Regions from separate parts of the Homo sapiens genome. Here all the other regions are reported to be linked to region 1. Evidence: microRNA targets listed by miRTarBase, many of them from high-throughput screens and not tested one by one. Region 1 holds a microRNA gene; each other region holds the end of a gene's coding sequence.
What was found. Region 1 holds the annotated microRNA hsa-miR-3184-3p (AAAGUCUCGCUCUCUGCCCCUCA, at 1,358-1,380, opposite strand). A microRNA usually pairs through its seed, bases 2 to 8, with sites in the 3' UTR of a target mRNA and lowers its output. Matches are read on the target gene's strand: a 7mer-m8 pairs with bases 2 to 8, a 7mer-A1 pairs with bases 2 to 7 and ends in A, and an 8mer does both.

Region 1 (4,000 bases):
TGAAACCCCGCCTCTACTAAAAAAATACAAAAATTAGCCAGGCATGGTGGCGGACGCCTGTAATCTCAGCTACTCAGGAGGCTGAGGCAGGAGAATCGCCTGAACCTGGGAGGCGGAGGTTGCAGTGAGCCAAGATTATGCCACTGCACTCCAGCCTGGGCGACAAGAGCGAGACTACGTCTCAAAAAAAAAAAAAAAAAAAAAAAAGTATCATATATGATCCTGATTCCTATACCCAATGGCCCGTGAACAGTATTATTAATAATTTTGGTCCTTGGGCCGGGCGCGGTGGCTCATGCCTGTAATCCCAGCAATTTGGGAGGCCGAGTCGGGCGGATCACCCGAGGTCGGGAGTTCGAGACCAGCCTGACCAACATGGAGAAACCCCGTCTCTACTAAAAATACAAACTTAGCCGGGCGTGGTGGCACATGCCTGTAATCCCAGCTACTCGGGAGGCTGAGGCAGGAGAATCGCTTGAACCCGGGAGGCGGAGGTTGAGGTAACCGAGTTCGCGCCTTTGCACTCTAGCCTGGGCAACAAGAGCGAAACTCCGTCTCAAAAAAAAAATTTTTTTTTTAATAATAATTTTGGTCCTATGTAAGGTATTATTAATACACAGATTTTCATTTTTCGCCTAATTATCCTGAACCAGTTAAAGTGAACACTTGGAAGGGGGTAGGGGGAATATCGATAGCCATGGCAGTGGTTTTCAAACTTTATCAGAATTACCCGCTGGTTAAAATTCAGATAACTCGCTTCACTCCAAAGTTTCTGATTCTGCAGGTTTGGGGTAGGGCCCGAGAATTTGTCATTTTAACAGTATCTCCGGTGTTGCTGATGCCGCTGGTCCCAGAACCACACACTGCGAACAACTGGCCTAGAACGTTGTCATTCCTTTCTCCTACAGATTTTGAGGCAGCCGGTGGGCTCCGAAACAAAACAGAGGTCACTGGATCCGATTCCCAGTACCATAGAAGTGACTCAAACCAGCGATTCAACCGACAAGCAGGATCCGGGCCACCCAAAGCCGCGCGAGAGTTTACGTGACGACATCGGCGTCAGCGTCACGGAGGCGTCGGCCACGTTCAGCGGACACGGGAGCAAGATGGCGATTCCGGGCAGGCAGTGAGTGATCCGGGAGTTAGGGTCAGGCTGGGGGATGAGAAACTACGGCGACTGTATCTTTGGCCGAGGAGTTTTAAATGCGCTGGAAGTGAAGGGACTGTGTCGTCAAGGGTAGAGACGGGAAAAAACGAGAAGTCCTGAGGAACATAGATTCCCCTCCCCCGTACATTTTCCCGGATGGAAGCCCGAAGTTTGAGGGAGAAACTTGTGAGGAAATAAAGGAAGTTAGGCTGAGGGGCAGAGAGCGAGACTTTTCTATTTTCCAAAAGCTCGGTCTGAGGCCCCTCAGTCTTGCTTCCTAACCCGCGCTTGAGTTTCTCCCCGCTTGGATGCTCTCAGGGGCAGTGTGAAGAGAGACAGTTCCTGGCTTCCTTAGAGGGCCTTGTTCTCCTTGGCAGAAGCTCAAGTCCTGATTCCCGCCCTTCCTTCTCGTTTTAGGAATATTGTTCTGAGAAGCCACAGAAAAAGGGTAGGCATATAGGAAATTGGGGTATACGTTGCCGCAAAAGAGACAAATACTGTACGTACTTGAAAGTTTTACCTTTGATGTGTAATCCTTACTTTTGATGCGGCCTCCCGTGATCTCCGCATCTTAAAGGCCAAAACGTGAGAAACTAAAGGAGTTGGATCTGATGGGATGGTTCTCTCAGATGCTCCGAGGCAAAGCACATGATCTTAATAAAGTGTAATGCGAACTTGCCCCATGGCTACTTGGGTTTCTCAGTTATCTTTTAAAAATTTTCGTGAGTTACACTATCCAGTCAGTTCTTAGAAACTGTGTAAGTACACAGTAGGAAAAAAAATCTAGCCATTTTCTTGACTGTTTAGACCACAAGGATAGTTGAAAGCATTTTAAAATCTTTAGTGGACATGAACTAAACTTTCCACTACACATGTTTTTTTTTTTTTTTTTTAAATGTTACTGTCACTTCGCCATCTTAAAACATTTCTGAACTTTTCATTTACTTCTCTTCTTTGATAAAAATGGTATTCGAGTTTGGCCCGTGTCCACAAATGATCACTTAGAGTAGTAATTATAGAATCTTACGGCATGTTAGAATTTTGAGATCACTGAGAAGCAAAAACAGTCTGTTACGTGTTCATAAAGCTTATGACATGTTTTGATTTGGTAGCTTCATGTGGAAGAGGTAGTAGATGTATTTGTTAACATTTAAACATAAAGGTTTAATTTCTATTTCAAAAAAAATATATGCAGGTATGGGCTTATTTTGCCAAAGAAAACACAGCAGTTGCACCCTGTTTTGCAAAAACCATCAGTGTTTGGGAATGATTCTGATGATGATGATGAGGTAAGGAAACCTATGTTTTACTCGTGCATGGTTGGAAATGTAAATTTTTTAAAAATTGAACTTGTGACTCTGATACCTTTGCCTTTGTTATTTGTCAGTACAGTGGAGTATAATTTACAGAATTGTCAAAAAGGAAGGTGTAAAGAAAGCAGCTCCACCGATTTTTTAAAGATTTTTTTCCCTCTAAAAGCTGCAAACTTTACCTTTAAACAAATACACGGTCTTTTCAGACTACTGAAATTGTCATAACAAAATTGTTGGTGTAAAGATCCCTAGGTATGAGTTATTAAGATGTCACCAATTTTCTACAAATTTTTATTAGCAAAGCAGTTTTTAATTTGTTAACCATGAGCTAAGATCACTATATAACAGTTCTTAACAACGCTACTTTTTTTTTAAATTCAGTGTCTGCCAAATGTAATTGCTCAGTTATAATCGTGGTAGTGAATAGTTACTCTTGATAGTACTACAGTAACATCTAATATCAACATTTTCTATTTTAGCAGCCAAAACTACTTCTGTGAAACCCACAGTTATATATCAGAAACAATCCCAAATGTGTGCTTTTCTTTTCTCTTTTTTTTTTTTTTTTTGAAACAGTGTCTTGCTCAGTTGCCCAGGCTGGAGTGCAATGCCGCGATCTCGGCTCACTGCAACCTCCGCCTCCTGGGTTCAAGCGATTCTCTTGCCTAATCTTCCTGAGTAGCTGGGATTACAGGCACCTGCCATCATGACCAGCTAATTTTTGTATTTTTGTAGAGACAGGGTCTCACCATGTTGGCCGGGCTAGTCTTGAACTCCTGACCTCAGGTGATCTGCCTGCCTCAGCTTCCCAAAGTGCTGGGATTACAGGCGTAAGCCACCGCACCCAGTAAATATGTGCTTTTCCAATACTCCCATCATGTTTTAATATTTTTTTTTCTTTTTTTTTTTGAGACAGAGTTTCGCTCTTGTTACCTAGGCTAGAGTGGGATGGTGCAGTCTTGGCTCACTGCAACCCCTGCCTCCCAGGTTCAAGTGATTCTCCTGCTTCAATCTCCTGAGTAGCTGGGGTTACAGGTGCCTGCCACCATGCCTGGCTAATTTTTATTTTTTTATTTTTTTGTATTTTTAGTATTTTTAATATTTTTTGTATTTAGTAGATTTTCCTGCCTCAGCCTCCTGAGTAGCTGGGATTACAGGTGCCCCACCACCACGCCCAGCTAATTTTTATATTTTTAGGAGAGACGGGGTTTCACCATGTTGGCCAGGCTGGTCTTGAACCTAACCTCAGGTGATCCACTTGCCTTGGCCTCCCAAAGTGTTGGGATTACAGGCATGAGTCACCATGCCCAGCCTCTTTTTTTTGAGATGGAGTCTCCCTCTTTCGCCCAGGCTGGAGTGCAGTGGTGCGATCTCAGCTCATTGCAACCTCCGCCTCCTGGGTTCAAGCGTTTCTCCTGCCTCAGCCTGCTGAGTAGCAGGGATTACAGGAACACACCACCACGCCTGGCTAATTCTTGTGTTTTTAGTAGAGGTGGGATTTCACCATGTTGATCAGGCTGGTCTCGAACTCCTGACCTCA
Region 2 (4,357 bases), not on the chromosome of region 1:
CTCTCACTTCTTGGTGACAAATAGCAGGCATTTTAAATTCTGCTAAACAGTTTCAGGCTGTTCGAGGTCTGTGGCCCTGGGAGTTTTTTCTATGTGAAGAATATATACCGTGTGTTGGGCTCACGAATGGCTTGAAGTCTGTTTCAGTGATGTCCATTTCATATGAGTGATTCTTACTTTGCCATACTTTCAATGGCCCTGCTTCTACCTCTTCTCAAAAGATAACAGTTGAGGAATCACCGTGTATTTCCCCCTTTTTATCACCATGTGTTCATTTCCATGGTATATCCACTTAAGCATCAGTTGTTCCAAGTGGCACTTGTTAATGCTACAGGGTGGAATAAGTGCAGTTGAGAGATAATAAATCTGTAGTGTTACTTGAATAACTCTGTTTTAAAAGAAAAGAAAAAAAAGCCCCTTTCCTCCTAAGAAAGACAAACAATGATATTTAAAAGGAGAAACCTATATCAAAAAAAAAAAAGAAAGAAAGAAAAAGAAAAAAAGAAAAAGTGAGAGAGAAAGAAAAGAAATATAAAAATGAACATCGGTAAAGAAATCAATTGGGATTGGTTTGCAGGTTTGGTTCCAAAACGCACGAGCCAAATTCAGAAGGAACCTTTTGCGGCAGGAGAATGGGGGTGTTGATAAAGCTGACGGCACGTCGCTTCCGGCCCCGCCCTCAGCAGACAGCGGAGCTCTCACTCCACCCGGCACTGCGACCACTTTAACAGACCTGACCAATCCCACTATCACTGTAGTGACATCCGTGACCTCTAACATGGACAGCCACGAATCCGGAAGCCCCTCACAAACTACCTTAACAAACCTTTTCTAACATTGGTTTTTTTTTTTTAGTTTTTAAATTCTTCCTCTTCTTTTTATTATTATTCTAATTATTATTATTTTATTATTTACAAGACTTTTTTTTTCTTCTAACCCACAAGATATTTGGGGAATAAAAATAACAGCTTGGTGTGTAGCATCTGCAGCCACTTGGCAAATGAGTTTACAGTATTGTCTCCTTTAAGTGAATATATTTTGTCTACAAAGTGTATTTGGATTTAAAAAAATTAATTAGGTCTTTCAGTTGGTAAGGAGAGTTTTTGAATAATTCTAATAAGTGCCTCTTAAAATTGTATGTTACTTATTTCCAGAATCTCGAAGAAAAAAGAAAAAAGAGTGGTATTATTATGGGCAAATAATCATATTCCCACTTAAATGATTAGGTTAATAAAGAACCAGATAATTAATTAGTTACTTTTTAAATCTTGCAATTGTATGTGTGATTATGGAGTTTTGAAAACGTTACATTTTTTAAATCTTAAAACTGAAAACTTGTTTTTAGTATTTCTATTTCTTACCTGAACTGTTAATTCAAGTGAGGAATATGATGAAATAAAAGCATTAACTACAGACATTTTAAATAGTAATGATTAATTAGGTGAGAAATCTATTACAGGAATGTGACTTTTCCTTCTCTTAGGGGTGTACAACTCTAAAAACTTTTTACTTGGTTATTTGTTTTTCAACATTTGAAAAATACTTAAGCTCCCTATGTATCCATGAAAATTCCGCATTGATTTTGACATTCCATACTTTTAACCTCCTAAAGCTAAAAACAATAGCTCGGAAACCATTCTTTCTAGTTACTTTTTTTCCCAGGGAAAATGGAAATAAGCAAAATATAATGTTTTAAGAAGTAAAAAAATCAATATAATTTAATTAATAGCTCTATTAATTGGCTTCAGCTGTACCATGATATTGTATCTGGCATTCTATATGAATAATGTTTAAAATACCCAGCCTGGTAGACTTATACCAACAATTGGTTTTGTTTTGTTTTATTTTATTTTGACATAGGTTGACTTATGTATTGAAAATAATTTTTCTGATATTAGAGATTTGAAGTTATTAGTCTTAAAGTAGATAAACTCAGAAGCCTTGTGGATGCTGATCTGAATATATTTCCTAGTTTACAGTAGCATTTTTTTCTTTTAATTTAAGCTAAAATCTTAATGGTCTGGGCAGTGGTGAATGTTCATCTATTACGCTTCTGTTGTAGTTAAATACCAATTAGATTGTGGATTTCCTAAAAAAATAAAAAAGAAGTCAAGATATATGTCTTGCTTTAGTGGATTGTTAAGAATAACTTTGCACATATTTTCCACTTTTTGGACCCCTTAAATCTCCTTTGGTGGTCGAAGTGGCTATTTAATAGATTTTAAAGGTGTCCTTCTGGCTGTATAAATGTGTGGTTACATATTGACAGTTCACTGCCCACATTAAAGTGCATTATTGTAACTTTTGCTCAGGGTCTTTAGAAAATTAGCACAGAAAGTAGCTTATTTTTTAAAAAAAGATGATGGAAGATAAGTTAACACTGTAACAGAAGAAAGGTGTGATTGCCATTATATATTTAGCAAGTATGGTTATCATCTTATATGGAGCTTAAATCTTGACTTTTCATACTTCTATTACATTTTGGGCATTTACCACTAACCAGACCAAACAACCTTGGTAAGGCTGAGATCTTATTAATACACTTTTACAGGTAAAATATTGACACTTATAAATTTTGTTCTTTGACAGAACAATATATGGTACTATATAGATCTACTTTATTAAGTAGACTAATTATAACTCAGTTCTCCTATGTGCCTTATGATATAACTTGGAAGTAAGTTTGTGAAAAATCAGGATATATGTGTTGTTTGTTAAATTAACTGTTTTAAGCCCTTTTAACACCTCACTAGTTTTGTACTGTTTTACCTCTTATTTCTGAAACTCTTTTTATGGTGTATCCTGTTAGAGGGGACAAACATGTCATAGAAAGCAGTTGTGCACTCTTTCAAATATAGTTGATAAATTCAATAATCTTATATATTGAGCTTCGTGTTTATAGTACAGTAAGTGGTCTAGCAAAATTGTCCATGTTTCTTTGTTTATTGATAAATGCATTGTATAGAAACTATTTCCCCTAAATATTTATGGACCAAACAATTGTGATATATCCTATTAAATTTGTGTGAATAAAACATTTTGAATCTAAGGAGTTTTCTTTCCCATCAGTTTTATTTAAGTTTTAACCGTACTAGTGTGTTCCAGCATCTATATGTAAAAGCTTTTCAAATGGTAATACAACATTGTTAGAAATATTTAAACATACAAATAGTTTTTAGACTTCCAAACTTCTGATTCATATGAAATGTTACACATTGTTGCACAGGCAGTGTAATTCAACCTAGAAATACCTTTGAATATATTTGCTTATAACAAAAGTAATGCCCCACTGATTTGACTCAGTCCAATTTTTAGAATAAAAAGGCTAATTAGCATATAAAGTAATTGCATGGAACGAAACCTTAAATATGATTAAGATTTCATGTTAGGTCTATTGAGCACAAATGGATATTTGTAAATCTAAATAGAAATTGCAGACCCCTAAAAGCCAAGTTGCTCTGTAGTTAATAAATTGTCACTATGATTTTTTTCAGGGAGAACAAATCTTGGGGCATTACAGCCAAACATCCCGACGTTTGAAAATTCCCTAAAGTATTAAAAGAAGGGGAAAAGTTTGATCGGAAATCCACTGCAGTGAAGACAAAGACACTATTAGGTTATGATAATCATACATTAAAAAATTTATTAAGCCAAAAAAAAAGAGAGAGAGAGAGACTTAAATGTCATTTACTGAATGTTAACGAAACTTGTGTTCTTTATGGTGTCTAACACAACTGAAGGCCTAAAATTATGTGGTTTAAACAAAATTAGATAAACCATGTACAAAACCAGAGCAACCTGGCAGTAATATGCCCACCCCATATTTGAAAAAAATTATTATTGAAAAAAATTTCACACATTTGTCAAGCACAGTTGTAAAATAAAGTCCAAAACATTCATTTCACCTGCTTGCTAATGTGTATTAGTCCTGTTAATGGCATTTTCCAACTGTAAATTCAAAGAAAAGCTATCACCCATTTAAGAGTATAGGGATCAAACCCCAGTAATTTTAGCATTATTGTTTATCACTTCCTTTTTAAACAGAAATCTCTGCATGCACTTTTACATATGTCACCTCTAGTGTACACCTCTGTATGATGACTTATCTTTGCTGTTTCTTGTATGATAAATAGCTTTCATTAATAAACATTTATTTGATGCAAACATAGTTAACTTTATGTTAAACACATGCTGTTGAAATTAATTTTGAACACTTAAAGAGGCAGCACAGTACATTTACAACTTGTTATACTAATGAAAAAATACAAACAGCATAGTGAGATTAAATTCTGGTAATCTAGGATAAAATTACTTACTTGGTTTTTACCTTTTCATGACTTATTTTCATTTGTTGTAT
Region 3 (4,357 bases), not on the chromosome of region 1:
GCCCTGGAAATTGGGTTCCTGGTTGGCCAATATTTTCTCTATGGCTTTAGTGTCCCAGGGTTGTATGAGTGTAACCGCTACCCCTGCATCAAGGAGGTGGAATGTTATGTGTCCCGGCCAACTGAGAAGACTGTCTTTCTAGTGTTCATGTTTGCTGTAAGTGGCATCTGTGTTGTGCTCAACCTGGCTGAACTCAACCACCTGGGATGGCGCAAGATCAAGCTGGCTGTGCGAGGGGCTCAGGCCAAGAGAAAGTCAATCTATGAGATTCGTAACAAGGACCTGCCAAGGGTCAGTGTTCCCAATTTTGGCAGGACTCAGTCCAGTGACTCTGCCTATGTGTGAGAGGGCAGGTTTCATGAAGGTCTGGGGGATGGCAAGGAGCCCCAAGGCAGATGACTGCTCAGACGTGGCTGTATCCACCCTCATTTATGTGACCCTCACCATTAAGATGTAGGATAAGACTGGATAAAAGAAGATTTTGCACCAATGGGAAAGGAGGAAAAGTGGACCCATTTTCACATATCACCTAATTGGTTCTACAGAGACGATTGGGTAGAGTGATGAAATGGATCAATTAGACTTCTTTGGTCCCTTTCTGTTTATGGCCTAGCCTGATCCTGATAACACTGAACTTGCACAGCTACCAAGTAGGACTTAGCCCTGCTGAGCTCTTTATTCTGGTGAATGGTGTGAGTTGAGTACTTCATTGATATAAAATTTGTGACCTATCTCAACCCATCCCTTTATCCTGAGCCATGGGACAAACATCCTTGAGGCACTCTTCATGTATCTCCCCCACCAGCATGCCCCTTTCCCTCAATCCAAAATAGCATGCCAGCTTTTTTTTTTTTTTTTTTTTTTTTTCCAGAATCTGGCCTTACATTAGACCTAATATGTTTTATTTGCAAACTTAGAGGGAATTACATGGGGTGCTTATTGGAGAACGGCCATGGCAGAGGTTTTCATTAGAGCCCCATCTGACTGGCCCTTAGTCGTGATGAAAACCTTAGGAATGTCTCAATATTTCCAGTTTTCTAACTCAAACTGCACTGGTGCTGTTTACTAGGGATGGGGGATGGGTGGGAGGGAGGGAATTGCAATATGCAACTACAACACTTTTGTGAGATTGTTGTTGCACAGTTAGGCACACGGTTACGAGCTTCAGGATATTTCTGCCTTCCAGCTTGTGGACTTTGGTTAACATTAAAAAGATTTTTTTTGGCTAATATCAAGAGTGTCTAGCTGAGCCACAGCATTTGTAACTGGTGTATCTCACTCATTTTCTTACATAGTTTTGTTGTGCAACACAGCTGCACGGTCATTTTGCCATGATTTGAATTTACCTGTGTGCTTACACCAGAGACCTTAATCATCCCATGTCAATCCTGATTTATTATTTTTTCAGTTACTCTTTGAAACACACACACATATACAGACACACATACAAAATTACTGGCTTAAAAGACCTGCAACTAAACACTATTGGCTAACGTGTGTTTACGGTGACTTATTTGAGACATATACCAAAGGTTCAAAAACCTATTGCATTGGACTGTCAATATGTTTTCTTCTTTTTGCTCTTATTTATTTAAGTGCCATACTGTACCTTTCATATCCACTGTGTATTTAGTTAAAATATTGGCCAAGAGAAACATCTGGGTAATGTGCTTTTATGAAGCCCTTTGTTCCCTTTGAATTATCATTATCATTTTTGATTTAGATATGGACATGGTGTAACACACAACTAAGGATTTGTTTAAAATAAAGTTCTTGCCTTTTTTTGTAAAATGGGAAGAGTCTGCACTTTTTGATGGGGGGTATATTTATTTAAATGCATGATCAAAAATGTTATAACAGAAAAACATTGGGGGTAGGAAGTAAGTCATGGTTGAATAGTATTTGAGGAATGACCAATAAAATACAATCAGCCACTAACAGATGAAGAGAGACTTTTCATGGATATTTTCTTCCAAATCAATGCTTTATGAATGTTCATAAGGGAGTGGTGAGATATTCAAATCGTATGATTTATTAGCTCCTTTCCATTTCAGCTCAAAACTTTCCTTACTTGTCTATTTCTTATAACACAAATGTCAATACTACATCATATTAGCCCATTCCAGGAGTGGAATTTTTTTTTCTTTCCACCACATTTTTTTTTCCTGCCATGGATTAATCATTACACTTGGCGAGCATGCTGTTCTTTCCATGATCTCTTCGGGGTCTGATGCTTAACACAATGCTAACCCGGTAGTCAAGCAGATCTCTCTAGACCAGCGCTGCCAGTAGAACTTTCTGTAATGATGAGGATTTCTTCTATTCATGCTGCCCAATGTGGCAACAACTAGCCACATGTGACTACTGAGCTCTTAAAACATGGCTAGTGCAAATCAAGAACAGAATTTCTAATTTTATTTAATTAATTTAAATAGCCAAGTACGGTTAGTTGCTACTCTATTACACAGCACAATTCTAGACTTTTAATCAATCATTTCTTAGTGGGTTCTTCAAAGGAGATTGATCCTTTACTTACATGTCATAAGACATTACTTTTTAGCCACAACATTTTACTCTCATTTTTGGTATTTTCTGCCTACATATGGTCCCATTATTTCAGCAGACTAGTGTTCTTTCTCATTTCTTTAGTGCTACTCACCTTCTAATTCCAATGAGCACTTGGCTTGAACATTGCGAAGCAACGTGGGGTTTCCTGGACGATTGATTTTCAAACACGATTGTTGCATCTCAACTATGGCAGCACAGATGCCAACTTTAGAATGAAAATATGCTCATTTCAATCTATAGGTTTCTATCTGCAGTATAAATAAGCAGTTGAAGATGATTATCCTTGAGTAAAGAAACAGATCCTCCTCCGTTTTGTGTTTGGTAAGCTAAAAATGTTTTAAGACGTCTCCCAGAGATGGAGGAAGAGTGTTGCTTGAGAGCTCTTAGCATATGCTTGGGTGTGAAAGAAATAGGAATCTGTGTGGAAAACAAGGTCTGTTGTATTTATGACTTGATGTAGGATTAAAAGAACCGTAGTGTTTCCTGGTAGAAATGCATCCCATATGAGTGGGGTTGATCTATTTCAGTTCTGTGATGTTTCCCAACACCTACACATGGCAAAATTATTAACTCAGTTGTCAGCAATGGAGAAGAAAACACTTTCTTTCAGAGTATAGAGTCTTCCCTCAGAATGACCATTGGTGTCGGTCTTTTGCTTTCTATGTAGTAAAGGAAATACACTGATGATTTTACGGTTCACATAGCTATGTGATAGATGTCACCTTAATTTGTATTTTGTGAGAGAACATCACTGATATAGCCTCTTAAATTTAAGAGACATTTGGTGAATTGCAGGCCCTCTTGGCCTGTGCACAGCTATATGTGAGCGCATGTGTGTGCATGTGTGCATGTATGTGTGTACACTGGTTAAGTAGTGGGTGGCAGTGCCTCAAATTGGTTTAAAAGTTTGGAGAATAGCCTGGAGAAACTGAAGTTGCTTAACCTGAAGAAAGAAAAGCTGAAAGGGCAGAATTTGTAACTGTAAGTGCTTAAATATTTAAAGGGTAAAAAATATGAAGGATAGTAGTTATGCTATCTGTGACCTCTGTGGACAGAGAAAAATGATTGAACTTAAAATCCAGGTGGGAGTGGTTTTAAAAGCACTAGAAAGAACATTGTTACCTTTTCACCTCTCTCTCTTTTTTTTTTTTTTTAAGTCTTTTTCTCTGCAAGGAATACCTGTCCGTCTACCTCCTTTCACTAGATGTATTCCTCTGCACCCATTAAAAATCAGTTTGGCTGTCCCCTCACCAAGGAACCTATTCTAAACCCTCCTCCAGTCTGGCTTAGTGCTCCTGCTCTGAGTCCTCATAAAAGTCACTTTGCTGGTAACTTGCTGTGTGGAGATGAGACACACACACACCATGCTAGATCACGGCATGGTTCCTTAAGGACAGAAACTATGCTTTACCCATTGTAACCACATACAACATTTATTGTCACCGTCTCAGTGTTTCATCTGGGAATGGTCTTATAGACTCAGAATGTATGAAAGCTAAACACATCCTGTGAAGACATTAAGGAAAACCTTTTACAGTACAGTTGAAGAAATCAAAAGATCTAAACTCAAGACAGCGGGTTTCTAAAAAAGTGGTGTAAGCATTCATCTTGGAAGGCTGGAAAACTTTATTTAGATGGAACTTAGAAAATGTTATTTACATTGGTTTTGTTTTCTTTACATTTTATTACGTGTATTAGTTCGCTAAAGCTGGTGCCATAACAGAATACCACAGATTGGCTGGCTTAAACAACAGAAATTTATTTTCTCACTGCTCTGGAGGTTGGAAGT

Region 2: miRTarBase lists LHX9 as a target of hsa-miR-3184-3p. Seed matches in the 3' UTR shown: 7mer-A1 at 1,810-1,816 and 8mer at 3,672-3,679.
Region 3: miRTarBase lists GJD2 as a target of hsa-miR-3184-3p. The part of its 3' UTR that is shown has no 7-base or 8-base seed match.

Annotation. Positions count from the first base shown.
Region 1 is chr17:30,115,738-30,119,737 of GRCh38, forward strand. MIR3184 (microRNA 3184) reads right to left here and starts at 1,423; the gene lies at 1,349-1,423. NSRP1 (nuclear speckle splicing regulatory protein 1) reads left to right here and starts at 1,079. Exons shown (of 7, transcript NM_032141.4): 1 at 1,079-1,126; 2 at 2,343-2,436. The coding sequence starts at 1,107. MIR423 (microRNA 423) reads left to right here and starts at 1,342; the gene lies at 1,342-1,435. RefSeq lists enhancers at 590-1,789, 822-941, 962-1,061, 1,092-1,191 and silencers at 904-1,505, 1,442-1,511.
Region 2 is chr1:197,928,425-197,932,781 of GRCh38, forward strand. LHX9 (LIM homeobox 9) reads left to right here. Exons shown (of 5, transcript NM_020204.3): 5 at 578-4,357. The coding sequence ends at 835. Among named protein-coding and RNA genes, the nearest start is that of LHX9, 13 kb to the left of the region's middle.
Region 3 is chr15:34,748,466-34,752,822 of GRCh38, reverse strand. It overlaps GJD2 (gap junction protein delta 2), which reads left to right. Exons shown (of 2, transcript NM_020660.3): 2 at 1-1,791. The coding sequence ends at 345. Among named protein-coding and RNA genes, the nearest start is that of GJD2, 4.4 kb to the left of the region's middle.